3 separate regions of the Homo sapiens genome follow, and regions 2 and 3 are each reported to be linked to region 1. The links are microRNA targets in miRTarBase. Many come from high-throughput screens and were not tested one by one. Region 1 holds a microRNA gene; each other region holds the end of a gene's coding sequence.
The links. Region 1 holds the annotated microRNA hsa-miR-5011-5p (UAUAUAUACAGCCAUGCACUC, at 1,914-1,934, shown strand). A microRNA usually pairs through its seed, bases 2 to 8, with sites in the 3' UTR of a target mRNA and lowers its output. Matches are read on the target gene's strand: a 7mer-m8 pairs with bases 2 to 8, a 7mer-A1 pairs with bases 2 to 7 and ends in A, and an 8mer does both.

Region 1 (4,525 bases):
AAGAAAAACTACATTGCAAACTCTCCATTGTCTCTGGGGTTCTTAGCTCATTTTCTCTGATAAAACCATGGGCATGGACAATTAAGAAATTAAGATGTGACCAATGATACAATAACATCCTGAAAATTGTACAGTAAGCCATCTGACCCTTAGAAACTTGTGTGCAAGTGTGTTTATCTTTGTAGATAGATCTTAATTAAATTACCTGGATCAAAGCTTAACGTATACTAAATTGCCACTCATGAATTATTGTCACACATTCTTGAGACACGGCTTTACAAATTTATATCCTTAAAAACCTAGATTGGAGTGCCTTCTTCACACATCCATGTCTAATATGGATCATGTTGAGTATCTTTGGATATATTAATTTTGCAATTTAATTTCAGAAAAAAGTAGTATAACACTATTGTTTTGATTTATATTTTTCTAATTGCAAAAGTTTTCTAATTTTCATGTATGTATTGGTAATTTGCATTCTATTCCTATAGAATTGTATATATTTTATTTTGTAATTTAGTATTGCTTCTTAAAAATAAATATTGACATTGTATATCATTTCGTTACATATATTGTATGTTTTCCTAATCCATCATGCATCACATACTTTGTTTTCCATATAAATTGTCATATATGTTTATTAACTAACTCATAAATACTCATATCTGTCACCATTTTTTAATGCTTTCTTGTGTTTTGTCATGTTTAGGAACACTTTCCCCACAATTCACAATACTATCTGACAGGTGTTAGTATACCTGTCAGTGTTCTTGGTTGTAGATGACTGAAATCCATTCCAATTGACCTAAACCAGGTAATAGATTATATTGGATAAATCATATAATTATTGGAAGGCTAAAGAAACAGGCTCAGAACAGGGCAGCCCCATGGAAACCAGGTTCCAGAATGGCAGTAAAATCCCCCCACAGGAACAGTCTGATGAGATAGCGCTGCTGCCACCGTGGCACTTCCTCCCCTAGGGCCTGGGATATTTGATGGTTAATTTCTGTACCTCTGTGATGAATACATACTTGTTTGTTTCTTACTGTTTTTACTTCTTGCTTCTGTTTCAAATTTCTCCCCGAAGCCATCTGTTTTAGTTTCCTCAGGCTGCCATAACAGATTAGCATAAAACAAATGGCTAAAAGAACAGAAATGTATTCTCCCCCAGTTCTAGAAGCCAGTTCAAACTCGGGTGTCGGCAGGATTGCATTTAATCCAGGATTCTAGGAGACAATTCTTTCTTATCTCTTCCAGTTCCTGGTAGCTCCAGATGTTTCTTGGAGCTACACTTGGCTATTTAAAGTTAATTTTAATGTTTAATTAACTAAACATTAAAATAATTAAAAAGTCAGTCCCTCCATTGTGTTAGCTGTATTTGAAATACTCAAAGGCACATGTGGCTACAGGCTACTATATTGGACTATGCAAGGGTAGAACACGTGTTATCACACAATGGTCTCTTGCACAGTATTGCTCTAGAATATTCCCTGGACAGAAAAGTTTTACCTGTGGGGCATTAAACAACAAAGAGCCTTACAATTGCCTCTGACTTGTATAGTAAAGCCAACAGTTGTTTGTTGTCATCGTCAGAAAAGTTGATTCCATATTTGAATATGGTTTCACTGCTTGTCATGCTTGGCCAATGCCACAAACCATGGATTAACTGATGGCCTTCTCCACTCTCATGGCTATTCACCCCCAACAATAGAACTTATTTCTTTCATGTTGCCTCATATGGCAGAATCCCCTTCTATTTTAAGGCTGAATAATATTTCATGGTCATATACATATATACACACACACAGTCATGCATTGCTTAACAGGGAAATGTACCTTAAGGCAATTTTATCATTGTTTGAACATCATGGAGTGTCCTTATCCAAACCTAGATGGTATTGAGTGGATGCTGTTATATATACAGCCATGCACTCTGTAGTTTGGGTACACAGTGCATGGCTGTATATATAACACTATCCATTCATCTTTCAGCAGGACTTTTTTTTGGTCACAACCCTGCTAACCAAAACAGGATCTGGCCAGAGAGCATGAAGTGAAGAAACTGATAGGAAGTGGCAGATGTCAACAAAAGCAATCTCTAACTACTCATTGCAATTTAATTGTCATGGTGCTGGTGGTAGTGTCTTATGCTAATGAGCAATATGAGCAGCCTGGCAACACAACCCAGAAGTTACCACCTCTTTCCATGGCAACAACCTAAAAGTTACTGCCCCTGCCTTAGAAAGTTCTAAACAACCTGCCCCTCAATTTGCATTGGCTCACCCCTCAATTTGCATGCATTTGACCTGCCTTAGAAAGTTCTAAACAACCTGCCCCTCAATTTGCATTGGCTCACCCCTCAATTTGCATGCAATTGAATGTGGGTCTCGCTGAGTATAAATACCGTTGCCAAGAGACCATATGTTGCTGACTCTGATTGCACTGCCTATGATTTAGCCCTGCTCTGCAAGGAGCAGTACCATTCAATAAACGATTGCTAAGACTCCTAGCTCATCCTTGAATTTTTTCCGGGGTTAAGCAAGAAATCCTCCCTGGCTAAGCCCCAGTTTGGGGCCTTGCCTGTCCCACAGCAGTGTAACGTACTACACACTTAGACAATATGACATAGACTGTATCTCCTAGGCTACAACTCTGTATAGCTTATTATTATACTGAATGCTATAGGCAATTGTAACACAATAGCATCCGTACATCTAAACATACCAAAACAAAGAAAAATTACACTAAAAACACAGTATCGTAATCTTATTGGACCACATTTATATATGTGGTTTTTTGTTGACTGATGCAATACACAGTGCATGGCTGTATATGTAACACTATCAGTCACCATTCAATGAGCAATTAGGTCGTTTCTATACTTTATTGCTACTAACACTACAATGAAATACATATGGATAAACCTAGAGGGCATTAAGCTAAGTAACTCTTACTTCTAAGATTTCTACCTTAAAGAGTCATATTTATGGCCTTTACTTGAGGTAAACTTCAGAAGCCATTTGTTGTGGATTAGGTAACGTGTGGAGAAATTGCTTTGTTGGGTTTTTCTTCCTTTGCATTTTAGTTTACACATATTAATTGTATGTATTTATAATCTGCAGAGTGATATTTTGATAAATGTATATGAAGTGTAATGATCAAATCAGAGTAATTAGGATAAACATCACCTCAAACATTTATCATTTCTTCATGTTTGGAATATTCCAAATCTCTTCTAGTTTTTTTAATATACACTATAAATTATTATTAACTATGCTTACCCTATAGTGCTATAGAACACTAGAACTTATTCCTCCTGTCTAGCTGTGACTTTGTATCCATTAATCAACCTTTCTCTGTCTTTAATAACATTATCAAACTGTGATTACCATAATTCTACTCTATACTTCTATAAGCTCATTTTTTAACTCCCACATATGAGAGAACATGCAGTGTTTATCTTTCTGTGCCTGACTTATCTCACCTAACATAATACCTTCCAGGTTTATCTGTGAATGGCAGAATGACAGAATTTTATTTTTCATGACTGGATATTATTGTATTGTATATATATGCCACAATTTCCTCAACTGTTCATCTTTTAAAGAACATTTAGCTTGATTCCTTATCTTGGCTATCACGAATAGTGCTGCAATAAATATGGAGATACAGATACGTCTTCTATAATTGATTTATTTTCTTTGGGTAAATACCTAGTAATGGGATTGCTATATCATATGGTGGTTTTATTTTTAGTTTTTTGAGGAACTTCCATACTATTTTCCATAATTACTGAACTAATTTGCATTTCCATTAACAGTGTACAAAACACAAGACTTGCTTTTTCTCCACATCCTTGCCAGCATGTTACTTTTTTTTTTGAGGCAGAGTATCAGGTCTCGCTCTGTTGCCCAGGCTGGAGTTCAATGGCGTGACCTTGGCTCACTGCAACCTCTGCCTCTTGGGATCAGGCAATTCTTCTGCCTCAGCCTCCCAAGTAGCTGGACTACAGGTACGTGCAACCACATCCGGCTAATTTTTTGTATTTTCAGTAGAGACGGAGTTTCACCATGTTAACCAGGCTGGTCTCGAACTCCTGACCTCAGGTGATCCGCCAGCCTCAGTCTACCAAAGTGCTGGGATTACAGGCTTGAGGCACTGCGCCTGGCTGCTTTTTTTCTTTTTATTATAGCCATTCTATTATATACACTTCCCTGATCATTAGTGATGTTGAGCAGTTTTTCATGTATCTGTTGGCCATCTTTATATCTTATTTTAAGAAATGTCTGTTCAGATTTTTTTTGCCCATTTTATAAATTATATACATATATATTTATATCTAGAGATATCTAATAGATTTGTAATTGAGTATCTTGTATATTTTGGATATGCAAATTCCTTGCCAAATAAACAGTATGCAATTTTTTTTTCTTTCTATAGGTTGTCTCTTCACTTTGTTGATTGTTTTCTTTTTCTATGCAGAAACTTTGTGTTTTTTTAAATACGATAACCAGCTAGATGCCTC
Region 2 (3,000 bases), not on the chromosome of region 1:
TATTTCTTAAGATTTGAGTGCAAACTTAAAAACAAGAACAAACAAAGCTTTTCATCAAGAATAAACACAAAATCTAAACAATTCTGCAATCATGCATTTTAACAGAAAGTACAAATATGAATACATTATAATTTGTAACTGCATTTAAAAATTAAAATATTTCTCTCCAAATCCAAAACACCACACAATCTTTATCTGTTCTCATCTTGTTACCTTAGAAACATTTGTCATATGCTATCAGGAAAATATAGGCAAGACTTACTAATCAGTTATTCATGATCAAAGAAACATGATTCTCCTTAACTGTGACTTTTTGAATCATTTATCTGTATTTCTGAAATATCACACAATTATACCTCTACTCTAGAGAAAAAAAGAATAAATACAAATATCAAGGAGGCAGGAACATTCATGGAATTAAAGCAAAAGTCACAAGTGTTTGACTTAGAAATGTACATATTGTAGTAAATTTTTAAAGTACAACTTTAGTTGATGGCTGATGTGTATGTAATAACTGTGAGCAATTTAAACAGGTATAAAAATGTGAGATCAAAATCTTTAGGCTTAAATACTTGAAAAGTCACTATGGATATGGAAAGATTTGTTTACATAAACATGTATATTTTTAGATGGAAAATCAAGGGGTAGTGGCATCTCCCTGGTCCCTTAACAATATTTGGATTTTTGCAAAGAATTAGCAGCACCCAACCTTAAGTGTTAATTATGTGTTTCTAAAGGACCTATAACAGATCAGTTGGCAGTGTTCTAGCTTTTGGGAGTTGGGGGCAGATTGGGGGTGCAAATATCTGAGATAAGATAGTACATGCACTCACACATTTAAAATCACCATTCTAAATGGGAAAAAAAATCACATATTGGAAAAGTCTAAGAAACTCATTCTTAAGGGATAAACAGCAGGGCAGGAATAAAAGCTGAACAGTAGTCTACTTGATAATAATGGTATTTCACTCTTCAAAGGCAAGTTGGGAAGAATGAGAATACTCACATACACATAACTTCAGGGAAAACTTGCCTAAAATTTTACCTTGCAAAACGCTGAACAGAAATCTTTACAAAAACCTTCATTCTTGTTTATAATACTTGATTTTTCCCTTATTACCACCATATACATAACATTTAAGTATTTTCTTCATAAATATTTTAGAGCAAAAAGAATGTATTTTGTTGCAATGGTGGCCCACATCTGTACAAAACAACATAAGCAACACACACACACACATATATATATGCATATATATAAAAAATGATTAAGAAAAAGTGCAAAGAATAACAGTATTAAGATTTTTTGCATTTTACAGTAACTATGGTTCAAGTGTGAATATTTATCAGGGATATATAATCCCAGGTTTTAATTAAAGATTCAAAAAGAAACCACACTCCCAAGTTACTGCACAAACATCAGTCCCTTATCAAGTAACTCTGCCCTTCTCCCAAATCTAGTATTTCCAGTTTCTAAGCTCTTCCCAAACAGGAAAAAATGATAACAGTGTTTTCTTCCCTTTAACTTCCCAAAACTCATCCAAGTTAATCACCTGTAAGTTCAAGCAAGATATTGGGGAAGTCATTCATTATAACCCGCTTTGCTAAAATTAAAGCAAAATGAAAGGCTTTCTGAAATGCAAACTACTGATCAAGAATAAAATCAGCAACAGCAAACAGACCTTAAATTACAAATGTAATTTAATACATGTACATTTTAAAATCAATCCCTGTTATCAAAGATAAATTCAGAGTTTAAATCTCTTTCCCAGGTTCAGTGCTGTGCAAGGGTTCTAATTCCAAATACTTATGATTTTATCACCTTTTCTAAGAGAAAATGTTTGCCTGTTAACTTTTTACCTTCCTTGCTCTTGGTCTCAGCTTTTCAGTTTGAATAAACACAGAAAGGCAATTTTCAGCATTTCAAAAAATGTACTTTCCTCTTAGTCATTCAAATAATTACAGTTATTTTTAGATCTCAAAGTTTCAAAAAAAGCAGCTCAATTTCCCTTTAAATATATTACTAGATATTTTTTGGTGTTGTATATGTTGTTCTATTCTTATTTTAGGCACTGTAATTATTCACAACATTACAATGACTCTATATCTAACCTATGCAACAATTATAATCTTAATACCTTCTAAGGTATTATTTGATTTTGTGTATTATATTACTATTGAATTTTTCCTTCAAGATAAATGGTTGGAAGAGAATTTTAAAGCCCTGCAGCACTTTTGCTTTGAGTAGTGTTAATACATATTTTCTGTCATGCTTAATATTTAAACTTCTGAAATAGGAAGACAAGAGGCATTGGAAGCTGCAAATTTCCTCAAACTACATTCTACTCCAACTCCAATTTATTTTGTTCAACATTAAATATTTTTCTTTACAAAAACAAGTATATCTTAGGCTAATTTTTAAAAACAGAATTTCTGCTCTATAATAACACAGCTAAAGGGAAATAACTTTTCAATTTCAGCTGCACTAGAACTATGCAAAACTAAGTTAAAGTAAACCGGACAACAATTTTAATAACTTTTGGTTTTGTTTTCTTTTTACTCTATCTTTAGAATGATATACCTTACATTCTAACAGTTCAACAAAGGCTTAAAATTCTAGAGGTTGAAAACCACCAGGCTACCTCCTGCACAACTGTCAATAAGACAACAACATTTTATTTGCCCCCATACATTCGTTCAATGTCTTTGAGGTAATGGTTCCTCAGCTCCTTCCTTTTCAGTTTGAAAGCATCAGTTACCAAACCAGTTTCAGGGGTCCATGGCTCTGGGCTTAATCGAACCTTGATTGGAATTTCAAATCGCTCCAATTTCACTGAAATTAGAAGTGAAAGATGGGAGAAAAGGAGAGGGGGGGAAAGAGACGAGAAAGGAGTGGGGACGGGGAAAGAAGGGGAAGGAGAAGCAATTAATAAAATATGAGTTTTTCAGGATTTACCTAGATGATTCGGGTGTTGAATCACCAATCACCACAAACTTATT
Region 3 (3,000 bases), not on the chromosome of region 1:
AGAAATTTGTAAACAGTAATTCAGTTGGGGGATATCTGGGGTACCTTTTCATTGTAAACATGACCACGCCTTATTCAGCTCACTGCATGCAGAATGTGCTCCTAGGCCACAGGCTTATAGTTTCTATTTCTTACTCCAGGTTTCATCGTCCATAACGAAGAGTGAGACTATTTGGAAACAGAGACTGATCATCTTTGGGGGAAGCCCTGCTTCCTGAAAACCTGATATTGCACTGGGATTTGAATGTGTGTGTTTCCGTTTAACTTGTGGTGAAGGAAGTGTGTGACTCAGCTTGGCTGGGAAGTGCTCCTCACCTGTGTGGCCCAGATGGCTCCAACAAGCAAAAGGAAGGATGCAGTGACTCTTGCTGCCCAGAATGCACAGCGATGGTAAGAGACACCGTGGATATTCTTCATCAGAAGCTTTAATCAAAGAAGATGAGCAGAAGACAATCACTGGCTCCCTGTTACCAGAAAGCCAAATTTTATAATGCGGGTGAAAGAAAAATATAGATTAAAATTGCTGGGCACTGAAAAGGGGTGGGAGTTGGAAATCAGAAAGAAAGAGAAATATTTCATTATGTTAATGAAGAAAAGAGAAAATTGAAGCATAAATGTATTTTTGAAGTAGTTATTCGGTAGCTGAGAACTTATTAAGGGATTTAGGAATTTAACCTCCTGATGTGGATTCCTCAAAGACTTGATCGGAGAATACTCTTGTTTCACCATTATGTTGGTACAGTATAGTACCATTATTTTATGTTGTGCCAGTGAATCCAGTTGCCAGAAATAAGTCTGAATGTTTTCATGCATCTTTTTCTTAAATGCAAGAGCTTCTACTGACTCTTAACAAGCATGCTTACCCAAATTTTGTTGCATGCTTTTAAGTAGCATTAGCTATGCACACTTGACATTTTTAAATATCCCTTTCCTAGTGTACCAGCCTTCACAGGATAAGAGGACTGGGAATAAAGTCAGATGTAATGTGACCCTAGAAAACTGTAGCAAGCTTCAGAAATAAATCTTTTGATCTTTCCCTATCTTGATTAGATCCAAAGTCAAAGCAACCATACTTCACCTAGAGAAGACAGTATTGGCAATCATGACACCTGTAATAAAAACTTGAATCCAAAGTCAAAACTTAAGCAAGATACAAATGTGCTGCCTGCAGTTAGTCCTGCATGGGAATAAGGACTAGTTATTTTTTTAGTGCTGCATTTTTTTAAAGTTGGATTGCTGCTATTTAAAAAAAAAAAAAGGACACAGATCAAAAAAACACCCAAAGGCTTAACAGAACATGGAAAGTTCCCACTAAGTTGTGTGTGAGGAAATCCTCATCTTGTATTTTAAGAATCTGCAGATGGCATCCATAGATACAGTACAGTATTTACTGTCAATGCAAAAGAATCAGTGAGGTTAAAGTAGTGGAAGTTTTCCCTATGAGCCTACAGTCTGTATTGTTTACATTAAGAAACTCTCTATTATTGTGTTGCTATTTTCCATGGAGTCACAGGCACACTATGACTTCTGCTCCCAAATACATATGACCATATGTAAATACCACCTTGCATTTCATTGTTCTTCACAAGTGCTTTGTGCCCCTTTAATTAAAAACACATGAAATGAATAACAAAACAAGACCCAAATAGAGTTTATTTTATTCTCAGAGTTTGGACTACAATTTTCTAAGATGTTTCTGGTTCAAGACTGTCATTTTCTATTTCAACCGAAAAGTAAGCATTTAACCCGGTGAATAAATGTAGATCCTGCCATTCATTGGTATTTTAAAGAACCACTTGAAATCGGATCATTTTATTTAAAAATAAAAAATGTTAATGCCAGTTGGCCTACTATAAAAAGCCAGGACCATGTTAGAATTAGGAAAAGTAACCAGCATTACTGCACCTCTTGTTAGACTCTGTGCATTAATAAAACACACCTAGAGTCTGTTGTCATTTCACTAATAGGATAAGACAAATTTTTTGCTTTGAAAAAATTTTTCTGCATGCCCAGGTGTCTGTCTCTGGCTGAGGTTTTGTCTATTTTACAGTGTTTCAATCCAGCCATAAAAATTAACTTGTGATTTTTTTTTTCCCAAAGTCATGCTTTTCCTTAATTATATTTTTATTTTATTATTTTAGTGTCTTGAGAAAAATACCAAGAGATATAATGTTTCTTTTAATTGTCTATGCTTAATCATCTTTAAACACTTTTTAAATTTCTAACCACAAGACCTCTCTATAATGGTAAATGTAAGACATCACCATTTTATCACTCAAAGTATGTTATTGAAAGTTTCTATTTGGTTGATAAAAGGAACAATTTTTTCCCACTTTTGATGCCTGTGATGCAATTTTTTATTGCCTACAATGAGATACACTTAGTACAAAAAATGAAAATCTGGTATTTCAAAATTGCATTTCTTGTATAATAGGTCAGATTTATTAACTACTCATACTTTTTCTTTACACTAATCGATACATTTAGAAAAAATTTTCTAAGTTAGAGACAAGTTTAAAAGTAAAAAAAAAAAAAAATTAGCCACTGCTAGTCTACTGTTTAGGTAATCGGAATCACCAATTATTTTATTAGAATGATGGCTTGAGTAAAAAGCTGTGGAAAGAATTAAAGGATTATGAGCTAAGCTGTATTTTGCAGAATATGGTTCTATTTTAGTAGAGCAGAGATGAGACATATCCCCACCGGCCACCCAGCCAGAGGTCTCCTACCTGGGGGCCCTAAAGGGATGCAGAGGTCTGGCCCACCCTCCGTGCATAGGCACCTCTGTCCACCACCAGCGTTTCAGCAATCCAACCAGTAAGCATATGCTGTATAGGAAAAATAAAAGTGTGTGGGAATTGGATTTCTTTTGTTGTAACACAATTCCAGGTTTTTGGCTATTTAAAGTTTGACATTAGGCTGACATCGAGGAAGTAAGTGGGTTTTCCTGAGTTCCCAAGATATGATTAAGGAAGAAAACAAACCCATCTCCAGGAAGATC

Region 2: the mRNA of ACSL4 is a reported target of hsa-miR-5011-5p. Seed matches in the 3' UTR shown: 7mer-m8 at 1,353-1,359, 8mer at 1,253-1,260, 7mer-m8 at 1,252-1,258, 7mer-A1 at 1,243-1,249, 8mer at 1,241-1,248 and 7mer-m8 at 1,240-1,246.
Region 3: miRTarBase lists PHACTR2 as a target of hsa-miR-5011-5p. The part of its 3' UTR that is shown has no 7-base or 8-base seed match.

The regions. Positions count from the first base shown.
Region 1 is chr18:67,079,694-67,084,218 of GRCh38, forward strand. It overlaps MIR5011 (microRNA 5011), which reads left to right and starts at 1,891; the gene lies at 1,891-1,993.
Region 2 is chrX:109,641,354-109,644,353 of GRCh38, forward strand. ACSL4 (acyl-CoA synthetase long chain family member 4) reads right to left here. Exons shown (of 16, transcript NM_001318510.2): 16 at 1-2,833. The coding sequence ends at 2,676. Among named protein-coding and RNA genes, the nearest start is that of KCNE5, 18 kb to the left of the region's middle.
Region 3 is chr6:143,823,535-143,826,534 of GRCh38, forward strand. PHACTR2 (phosphatase and actin regulator 2) reads left to right here. Exons shown (of 13, transcript NM_001100164.2): 13 at 140-3,000. The coding sequence ends at 155. Among named protein-coding and RNA genes, the nearest start is that of LTV1, 18 kb to the right of the region's middle.